3 separate regions of the Homo sapiens genome follow, and all the other regions are reported to be linked to region 3. Evidence: microRNA targets listed by miRTarBase, many of them from high-throughput screens and not tested one by one. Region 3 holds a microRNA gene; each other region holds the end of a gene's coding sequence.
What was found. The annotated mature microRNA hsa-miR-1301-3p reads UUGCAGCUGCCUGGGAGUGACUUC and lies in region 3 at 1,416-1,439, shown strand. An mRNA with a match to its seed (bases 2 to 7 or 8) in the 3' UTR can be bound and repressed. Matches are read on the target gene's strand: a 7mer-m8 pairs with bases 2 to 8, a 7mer-A1 pairs with bases 2 to 7 and ends in A, and an 8mer does both.

Region 1: the mRNA of ARIH2 is a reported target of hsa-miR-1301-3p. Seed matches in the 3' UTR shown: 7mer-A1 at 2,838-2,844 and 8mer at 1,371-1,378.
Region 2: miRTarBase lists SLC25A26 as a target of hsa-miR-1301-3p. Seed matches in the 3' UTR shown: 8mer at 1,109-1,116.

Annotation. Positions count from the first base shown.
Region 1 is chr3:48,983,015-48,986,150 of GRCh38, reverse strand. ARIH2 (ariadne RBR E3 ubiquitin protein ligase 2) reads right to left here. Exons shown (of 16, transcript NM_006321.4): 16 at 1-2,952. The coding sequence ends at 2,881. It overlaps LOC124909376 (a long non-coding RNA gene), which reads left to right. Exons shown (of 2, transcript XR_007095903.1): 2 at 418-666. Among named protein-coding and RNA genes, the nearest start is that of P4HTM, 5.7 kb to the left of the region's middle.
Region 2 is chr3:66,377,341-66,380,476 of GRCh38, forward strand. It overlaps SLC25A26 (solute carrier family 25 member 26), which reads left to right. Exons shown (of 10, transcript NM_001379210.1): 10 at 350-1,583. The coding sequence ends at 467. It overlaps LRIG1 (leucine rich repeats and immunoglobulin like domains 1), which reads right to left. Exons shown (of 19, transcript NM_015541.3): 19 at 1,457-3,136. The coding sequence ends at 2,923. Among named protein-coding and RNA genes, the nearest start is that of LRIG1, 120 kb to the right of the region's middle.
Region 3 is chr2:25,326,954-25,330,089 of GRCh38, reverse strand. MIR1301 (microRNA 1301) reads left to right here and starts at 1,369; the gene lies at 1,369-1,450. All of the region lies in intron 1 of DNMT3A (DNA methyltransferase 3 alpha), which reads left to right. RefSeq lists an enhancer at 1-65.

The DNA.
Region 1 (3,136 bases), not on the chromosome of region 3:
ACAGGTGCCCTGTGCATGTTGCCCACAGCTATGGAGCCTCCACTCTACCCCTGAGCTACTTATCACTGACACTACTGCCACTTCTGACACCACAAATGTGGACCCCCTTAATCAATCCAAACCTCATTTCCTGTCCTTCACCCTTGAGATTAGACTCCACACTTGTTTCTGCCCCAAGTTGTCTCTTCATAACCCTTAGGGCTCCCGTGAAGCTGGAGTTCACCCTGCCATATTCCACAGCCCTACATTCCCATGTCTGCTTTGGAGGGGTCCGGAGGTCTCAGAATGGGGGGGTTGGGACATTTATATCAGTACTCTACCACAACCCTGGGATCTATCTGTGGTGGGGAATGATTCAGCCTGTACTGAGGGAGAGGAGAGCGGAAAACTGGCAGGATTTTCTACTTCATTCCACAGGGATCACTTACAGGTGCCCTCTCCCCCAACAGCCAGAAAGGGAAAACAGAGCCGAGTTTGGCCACTGGGGCCTCCACAGCCCTCTGGAAGAAGGGGCTGACTGATAGGAAGGCACTCCTCTGGTGTTCACTGGCCAGACCCCTGTGGGCTCAGAAGACTACCTAGACCCCATGAAGAAAGACTCTAGACACATTTTTATAATCAGAAACTTACAGTTTATTGTGAATAAACCACTCAACTTTGAGCAGATGACATTGCCTCAATTAACTTTTTCGTTGAAGAAAAACAAAGATATATGGTAAATTCATGAAAATACTGTGTCCTTTCTCTTCCACCCTTTGTAGGGCAGAAAAATTCTGCCTGACCTTTCCCATCTTCCTGATGATGTTAACAAACGACAGCCACTGAGGGCACAGGAGGGGGCTCTACACAGGCCAAGAGCTACAGGCTACAGTCTGAGCACAGAAAACCCTCCAGCTCCAGCATCCAGGGCCACAGCTGGACACAAGTACAGAACCTGGCAGCCCTGCAGCCCAGACAATGCCCAGGGTGTGATTTAGGGTGCAGAGCTGCAACTCAGATCCTGTGCCATGGCAGTATCACAGGAAGGACTTGACGGAGAGGTGAAGGCTCCAGACGCCAGGATATTTATTCCCTGTGCCAATACAGCATTCACACCTGACCTCCAGGTCCTGCAGCAGGTACTCTCCTCATTCACAGTTAGCTCCCCACTGTTCCATTCTGGGTTCATTTGCTATACTCCTAATCTGTTCTCCCAATCCACCCCACAGTCTCTCCCTTGCTGGGGACAACACAGGAAGAGACAAAACCTGAGGAAGGAAAAAGGGAACCTGCAACCAGCCATGGACCTCATGATCCCATGAGTCACAGCTATCCTCTGTCTTTAAGAATGACTGTTTTATAGCTTACATGGTACCTGGGAAATTGCTGACTTGCAGCTGAAATGTATGAATACCAAAGAATTTCTATCACAATATTCACAGATCTCTGTATCAGCTCTACTTGGAGGTCAAGCAGGCTTGGGAGAGTATAGACTGCTCTGCCTGCCCTAGAGTGGAAGCATTGAACAAAGCCACAAAAACCCCAGAGATCACAGATCTAACTTTTCAATGGCCCACAGGACCAGGTTCAGGACAGGTAGGACACCAGGCAAACCACTTGTTCCCTTGCGCTTCATTGTGCAAAAGCTGGTCTGTTCCTCTGGCCAGACCCTCCTTAGTACAGGATCTCGGACCACAAACCAAGGAGTCTCGTGGCCTTGGATTCCCAGACCCTAGGATGGTATCCCTCTGACAGCTGGAACCAGGCAAGGGGGAACACACCTCAGCCTCAGAGCAGCCTCTGGACACTCTCCAGGTAACATGAAAATAACTTGTGCAAACACAGCCCCCATGCCAGAAAGTCCAGTGCCCTAGGAAGGGCTATCCTGAATTCTGACCCTGATGTTTGCCAAAGGAGAATGCAGCAAGACAGTGTCAGGTTTGGCCAAATGTGACCCTGCTCAGAGCTATACCACTTGAATACTGGCACAAAAGAAAGGACCAAGGTAAAGCAAATTTATTTGGGAGGAACAATTCCCTTCAAAAGTAGATCCCTATCTTTAGGAGACAAAAGGCAACACTGTGATGAACCCACACCCCCTAGTTTGGGGGGCCACAGGCCCAACCCCATTCTGCTGTGGGCTCTAGCCTCAGTAGCCAGATCCAGGTAAACCTCAGTTTCAAGAATAAAGGTGAGCCACAGACATGCAGCACCACCAGAGACAACAACACCCCGTGGCAAGAAGACCATGTTCTGGACTGTCTCCGTACTGCCACGGTAAGGCAGGAGGCATGCTGTGACCCCTTGTGCTCCATGCCCATTGCACAGGCCAGTTCAATTCCCTACCATCTGCCACCCATGCTCTTCTTTGGGACTACAACTCTGGCCAAACGTGAATATGGAAAGCAGAGGCCCAGGGCCCTCTTGCAGTACAGACATTTTGAGGTGGGTAGGCAGCATATGTTACATTCTAAGTAAAACAGCTAGAGGGTAAAACACTCCAATGCCAATTTATTTTCAAAAAGGGCTCTGTGTTATCCTATAGTTTGCCTTTTTTTTTTTTTTGTATAATTGTACAACCTTTGAAAGTTACATAAGTTGTAATGATCTAATACTATTAATAGCCATTCAGAAAACACTTTCCCTCCCTCCCAACAACCATCCAGGGGGAAATAAAAGTCCTGAAAAGAGGCCAGTTCAACATGGCCTCTACCCTGGTAGAAACAAAAAGTGAAAAGAGAAGAAAACAGAAATCAACTAAGAGGTGTTGCCAGTGTCTCTCAGGAGTGGGGCCCTGGCTGTTGCCTGGGGTCATGAAAGGCAGAGCCTGCAGCATGCAGTATGGCAGCCGGGAGACCTTGCAGCCACATCTTCCTCACCCCGGCACATCCACATCCCAACTTAGGTGTCATGGAAATCTTTCAGCAGGGTTCTCCTCCGCTGCTCCGCTATATGCATCTGGTTCTCCAAGTCCTGCATCAGAGAAACAAGGTGTGTGCTTGCATGGCCCAGGCCTGGGAGCAAGGAGTAGCCAAAGCCACAAACACCCTCCAGGACCTCCAAGGAGTCAAAAACACTGCCCTTCCCATTCTTAGCAGCAGCTACCAGTGCACAAGCCAACAACGCTGTCACCTATTACCATGCCAGTCCTCTACCT
Region 2 (3,136 bases), not on the chromosome of region 3:
GTCAGTGGGTGGAGCGGCAGCATTGCCCAAAAATCTCTTCACTGAGCAACCCCTGGAGATCACTTTAGAGGTGTGGGCTGGAAGTGCCTTCCAGCCTTACCTAGGATTCAGCTCTTTAACACCTTTTTAAAAAAAATCAATTTCATGTTTCAAAGGGAAAAATGGCATGAAAGTTTTAGAACTACTGTTGGGACACAGCTATTACTTGCCTTATTTGGGAGCGTTCACAAGCTGTTTGGTAGTTAGCCACTAATGAGCATGGTGTATTGAGCTGAGCAAGCTGTGGGTATTGGAATTTAACCTTTTTTTAAAATACGCACAACATTAAAAATCCTGTTTTTTCCCCTAGATTATTTGCAGGTGTCTTCCCTCGAATGGCAGCCATCAGTCTGGGAGGTTTCATCTTTCTGGGGGCTTATGACCGAACGCACAGCTTGCTGTTGGAAGTTGGCAGAAAGAGTCCTTGAAGCAGAGACAAGCCTCACCTCCACTTCTGTCAAGAGAGGGGCCTGCAGTGCAAACCCTCTTCCGCTGAGCAGCTGTCTGAACTATAGGCCCCAGTGCTGAAGACCAGTTGTGCTAAGATACCGGCATGGAGATTGTGCCATCCGTGGTATAGGCTGGCTGGTATGAAGTCATTGGCCTGTATGCCAGAGAGCTAAGAGAAGAAAACGGGGTCTGTGGCGGTACTCTGAACAATTTCCTCAGAACCTCTTAATAAATAAGTTTGGTAATGCTGAGGCCAGGCCTTTTAGAGCTTTCATTTGATCTGTATCTGATCTTTCATTTCCTGCCACCTGATGGTGGATTCAGCAGAAGGCAAGATGGTTATAATTCTAAAAGAATAGCTTGTTTGTTTGTTTGGGAAAAGGAGACTTGGGGAAGAGTTGTGTATGTGGGTGTTTCTCCCCCTAGTTAATTCCTGTTGTGTAAGGGTAGGCTTTGTTGAAAAAGAAAGAAAGATTGAACTACAGGTGCATAGCAAGCACTCTTTCTGGGTAACTAGGCTGCTGGTTTTAATTACCCTCAGATTTCACCCATAAAAACGCACAATTGTATTATTTTACAGAGATGTGTCCAGCGCCCCCTGTGGTGTGTGAGAGAAAGCAGCTGCAACTCAAGTGACTAGGTGGGCCCAGCTGGCTTCGTGCAGGAGGGCACGGTGGGTGAGCCATTCTCGCCATTCTCATGTCAGACTGAAAGGAGGGCCTGGGCCAGCTTTGAAAAGGCAGGATGAAATGGAAAGGTCACCACACTTAGGGATTTTAGACCTTGACTAACAAGCTCCAGGTGTAGAAAAATTCAAAACAAAATGTCAGGAATCTAGCAGTGTTGTCTGCCCTGGAGCAAACAAACAGTATGTGATTTTGCTTCGCCTATTTTTTTTTTCTTTTTTGGGGGAAGATAATTAAAGGCAGAATGACTGCGTTTGTAAAAGAAGGACCACCAACTATACTGACATTTATAAATGAACCTTTATTAAAGACACTTCAATGCCATTTGTTAGACACTTCAATATTTTACATGGTTTTCAATGTACACTGTACCAAAATTTCTATAAATAAATAACTTTGTACATAAAAGTAATACTCCCTCTTTCACATTGCCTCTCAGAAGCAGCAAATTCACATATTTTGTGGAAGTAAGATTAGTCAGTTAACTGTCAAGAACAAAATTCTAAATGTGCTTACCTTTTGAACAGTGATGACACCTGACAGTAATTGTTAACTATTTTCTCAGTAACTCCCTTCAGCTTTTGGCCAAAGGAACATTTGAAGGACCTTGTTTCTATTTAAGTTTTACTAAATGACACATTGGCACTCATAAGATGGTTAGCTACCAGTCTCAAAAGTGCAAATTATACCCAGAACCCAGGTCAAGGGCTGTCCTTTCCAGTCCCAGCTCAGTTTCATCTGTGCGAAGGAATGGCATGGACAGGCCTGCTCTGGGTCCTTAGTAGAAATAAGGTAGCCCTGAAAAGTCAGAACTTCCTCCTTTCTGTCCCCCAAGGCCAATGTAATACTCATTATATTGGCAAAACGAAAACATCAGTATAGAAAAATCCACAGGTACCAACACCAGCAGCCTTTACCTTAATTTAAAAGTCTCAAATAGCAATCGAATGATACTGAGAAGGCCACATTTGCTTTTATCATAAAATAAGAGGAGGAGGAAAGGCAGTGTTTAACTGTTCTGACCTTTTGCTTGTGATGGATTAACAACCCTCATTCTACGCCTTACAGACGGACAGATTCTACGCCTTACAGACAGACAGGACTTAAACCTAAAAGGAAAAGCCATTCACTGCAAGTGTGGATGGCACTTGCACCCCTGGCTCTACAGACAGGGAAGCCTGTTGCAGGGGCATCCACACATGAGCAGTGCTCACCTGAAGCTCCTTCCGGCGCATGTGGAGTCCCACCGCACAGCAGCCTAGGGGTCTATGAAGTGCAATATAAATCCAAGGCCTTCCATCCTTCCCACCCCGCACCAAAAACTCCTGTGAACAAATGTGGTTGTAGCCTCTATAAATTCCAGCCATGCGTTAAGGCACCAGAACTATTTCCCCACCCCCTCCAAAATTAAACAGCAACCTGATACGAAAAATAATATTGTCAAAATTGTATAATTTTTTTCTGTTAACCATGCACTAAAGATTAAAATAGCCTCTGTAAAAGATATATATGAAATCTCTGAAAACTCTTATGTACAATGATATCAAATACTTTTTTTGCCTTTTGTACACAAATCCCCTCTTGCGTTTACTGTGCTTCAGATCCAAGTCCTGTGAGCGACTGATACTCCACATGGGAGTTACAACTATGTACAGATGAGTGACGCTTGAACCCAAGCTTCCTCGCAGCCTCTCCTACCTCTCTTTCCCGTAGAGATTGGTATGACAAGAACTGAGGTAGACAAAACCTAGCTTTTTGGTGCCAACAGCAGTGGCACCCTCTGTTTCCCGGGGAGCTGTCCTGTCAGTGGCGTGGACTCGGGACTGGCGTCACATGCTTTGGGGAGGTGGCCATTGGAAACAAGCAAGTACTGGGCTTCCGCGCGCTCTGGACTGCCTGAAGTTAATGAAGATGCAGGCTGTAGCTCTGTGGAGTCCGGGTGATACAACCTTGCTAAAGTC
Region 3 (3,136 bases):
CCAAGTTTATGTGGTTTTTCTCTTCTTGCTCTGTTAGTTTTCTAGTACAGGCATTTCCAAGCTTTTGGAGGAATTCTATTGCAAATGTTTGTTTATAGGGCAATGTTTTGTGTTTTCTCTCAGAACAATGTTATGAATGGTTATGAGGTTCCCAAGCTGGTTTCCAAATGCCTCTTTGGCCCATACAGTAGGTGAAATGTGCAACGCGTGTGCCTGTGTCGGAAGGCCCGCCCAGCATCCTCTGGCTCCAGGTGCCCCAGCGTGTGCAGCATGAGGGGGGCTGTGTGCGTGTGTGAACCTGTGCGCCTGGGTCATCTCTGCATTTGTCTAGGTATATCTCTGTGTGTGCATCTATGTGTGTTTGTATCTGTGTGTCTGTGTGTGTGTGTGTGTGTGTGTGTGTGTGTGTGTGTGTGGGGTCTGCATGACTGTGAGAGACTCCTGAGGCCACAGTGGCAGGTAGACATTCTCTGGTAAATACATTCCCCATTCTAGTGGCACGGGGCCTGGGCTGGAGACTTAGGGGCATCAGCTGGGAGGGGGAGCCTGGCACAGCAGCCGTTCCTAGGAGTGAGCACAAGCCACTCTGAAGTGTGGTCTGAAGCCAGAGTCTAGGTTTCCTAAGAACATATGGCTTGCCTTTCTTTCTGATCAAGCACATAATAATTTTTAAATGATCATTTATTGAGTACCTGCCACGTGCCAGGCCCTATGTTAAACACTTGACTCAGATTCCCTCCTATCTTAAAATAGACTTATGAAATAGGGACTCTTTCTCACCCCGCTTTACAACTTGGGAAACTGAGGCCCGAATCTCTCAGTGACAGAGCCAGGGTTTGAGGCAGGGACTGCTGGAGGCAGGGCCCATGGTTCTGAGATGTGCTGCTCAGAACCCTGGGCTCTTCTCCCTCCCTCGGCCCCCTCCACAAATGGTTTGTTTTTGTTGGGACAGACGATGAGGAGAAAGGCGGCCCTGTGGGAAATCTGAGAGCAGCGAGCTCCCTTCCTGCTGAATTGGTTGGGGTGGTGGGGGACGAGCTCCAACAGCCGCTCCCAAGCCCTGAAGACCCTTTGGGGGACCTCCTGGTTTTGACCCAAGAGGGAGCTGGTTTAGGAAGTGGGGTTGGGGGACTGTGGCCATGGACGGTGTGGGGAGAGGGTGGTCACAGGCCAGACAAGGACTCAGCCCCCCTGATTCCTGTGGTTCACTGATAGCCTAGGCCCTCACCAACCCCTTCACCTTGGGGATCTGGGGCAGGTGAGCCTGCAGACCCACAGCAGGTGTATGTTCTGCCCTCGGAGCTCCTGCAAACAGCCTTTCCACTGACGCAGTGCCTTGGGGGCTCTGCCAAGCGACCCCTAGAATGGGGATTGTGGGGGGTCGCTCTAGGCACCGCAGCACTGTGCTGGGGATGTTGCAGCTGCCTGGGAGTGACTTCACACAGTCCTCTCTGCCTCCAGGGTCACCCGGAACGGGGTTGCGGGGGACAAGCTGTGGGCGGGGGGGACGGGCAGCAAGATACAACGCATGAACTCTGACCTCGTCTCTTTGAGAAATCAGACACATCTATATACGCATGGAACACTCAATGACCCCTGGGTGGGTGGTCGAGGAGAAGGGGACGGTGTTTTGGGGGAGGAGAGATGTTGGGTTGAAGGACTGGGAGAGAGGAGCTGAGTGGGCCCTGTGGGAGAGGGTGGGAGCCAGGGGTGTCATTCCGGGACAGCAGCCGGGCCTGGAATGATGCAGCTGGGAGAGGTGGGGGCACGGCCAGAGCAGTGGGCGGAGGCTGCGTTGTAGCCAGCCCTGGTGAGACCAGGCCAGAGCGTATATTTTACCACGTGTGCAAATCTTTGGCATCACCGGATTTTTAAAAATAATAGCTTTAAGATATAATTCACATTCCATACAGTTCACCCATATAAGTGTACAGTTCGATGGTTTTAGTACATTCACAATCAACTTTTTAAAATTGTCATGAGGTGTCATAGGTTTTCATAGAGGGAGCCATGTGTGGGCAATCCTTGCTGATAGGGTGGGGTGGGAGGTAGAGATGCCAGAGGCAGGTGGACCCGCTCCAGGGCATCTACCAGGTTATTGTGCCACAGACACAAGAGGTACAAAGGGCCTGGAGGGAATAGGGGGACGAGAGAAGCCCAAGGACCAGGTACCTGCTGGATGTGAGGACCCAGGGGAAAGGTGGGACCTGAGTTTTCTCCAGGGTTTGGGACTTAGGCAGCTGAAGGGAGGGGAATGTTACTTCCACATAGAGGGAAAAACCAGAAAATAGAGCCGGCTCTGAAAGAAGCATGTTCTGGAAGAGTAGGATTTTAGGGACTGCAAGTCATCCAGTTGGGATGAAAATAAATAGAGCTGGAGCCCCTGGCAGTAGGAGGCGTATGTTAACTTATGCCCAGGTGTCTTAGAGGAAGAGCATTTAGAGAGAAGCTGAAGGTAGAACATGACCTTTGAGGAGCACCCACCGTGCAGAAGTGGGATCAAGACTCCCGGACAGCCCCAGAGACAAAGCTGCAGAATCTGAGGCTGGAGACCCAGAAGCAAGGAGCCAGATGGAGTCATGGCTGGGAGAGAACACACAGAAGGCAGTTGCTGGTGAGCTCCAGAAGCAGGGGTCTCCTTTCACTCCAGGGCCCGGCTCCACAATGGCACTCAAGAAATGGCTGTTGAGTGAGTGCTTGAAGCAGGGAGTGATTAGCTGGCCAGGATGTTGAATTGAGCTCAAGGGCCATGAGGATGGAAAAAAGCCCTTTGGGGCCGCGGGTGACTGTATCAGTCAGGGTCCATTCAGAAGACAGAAACCACATGGTGATTGGAACAAGGAAAGTTTCACATAACGAATTATTAACTCTAATTGGATTGGAATAATGAGGAATTGGCTAGTAAGAAGTAAAAATAACTCCAAAGAATACAAAAATAATAGATATGAGAACAGCCCCTACCTCTAGGGTTGCCACAGAGTGCCCAAGGAAGAGGCCCCGCAGGGTTGAGATCCACACCTTGATGGAGAGGGTGTGGCGATGGCTCCCTGGATGGCAACGTCTCTGTAATGCCATGTTGGCAGAACTTGCTGGAAATCCACCCTCTGGAATTTACTGGAAATCCATCTTTTTGGGT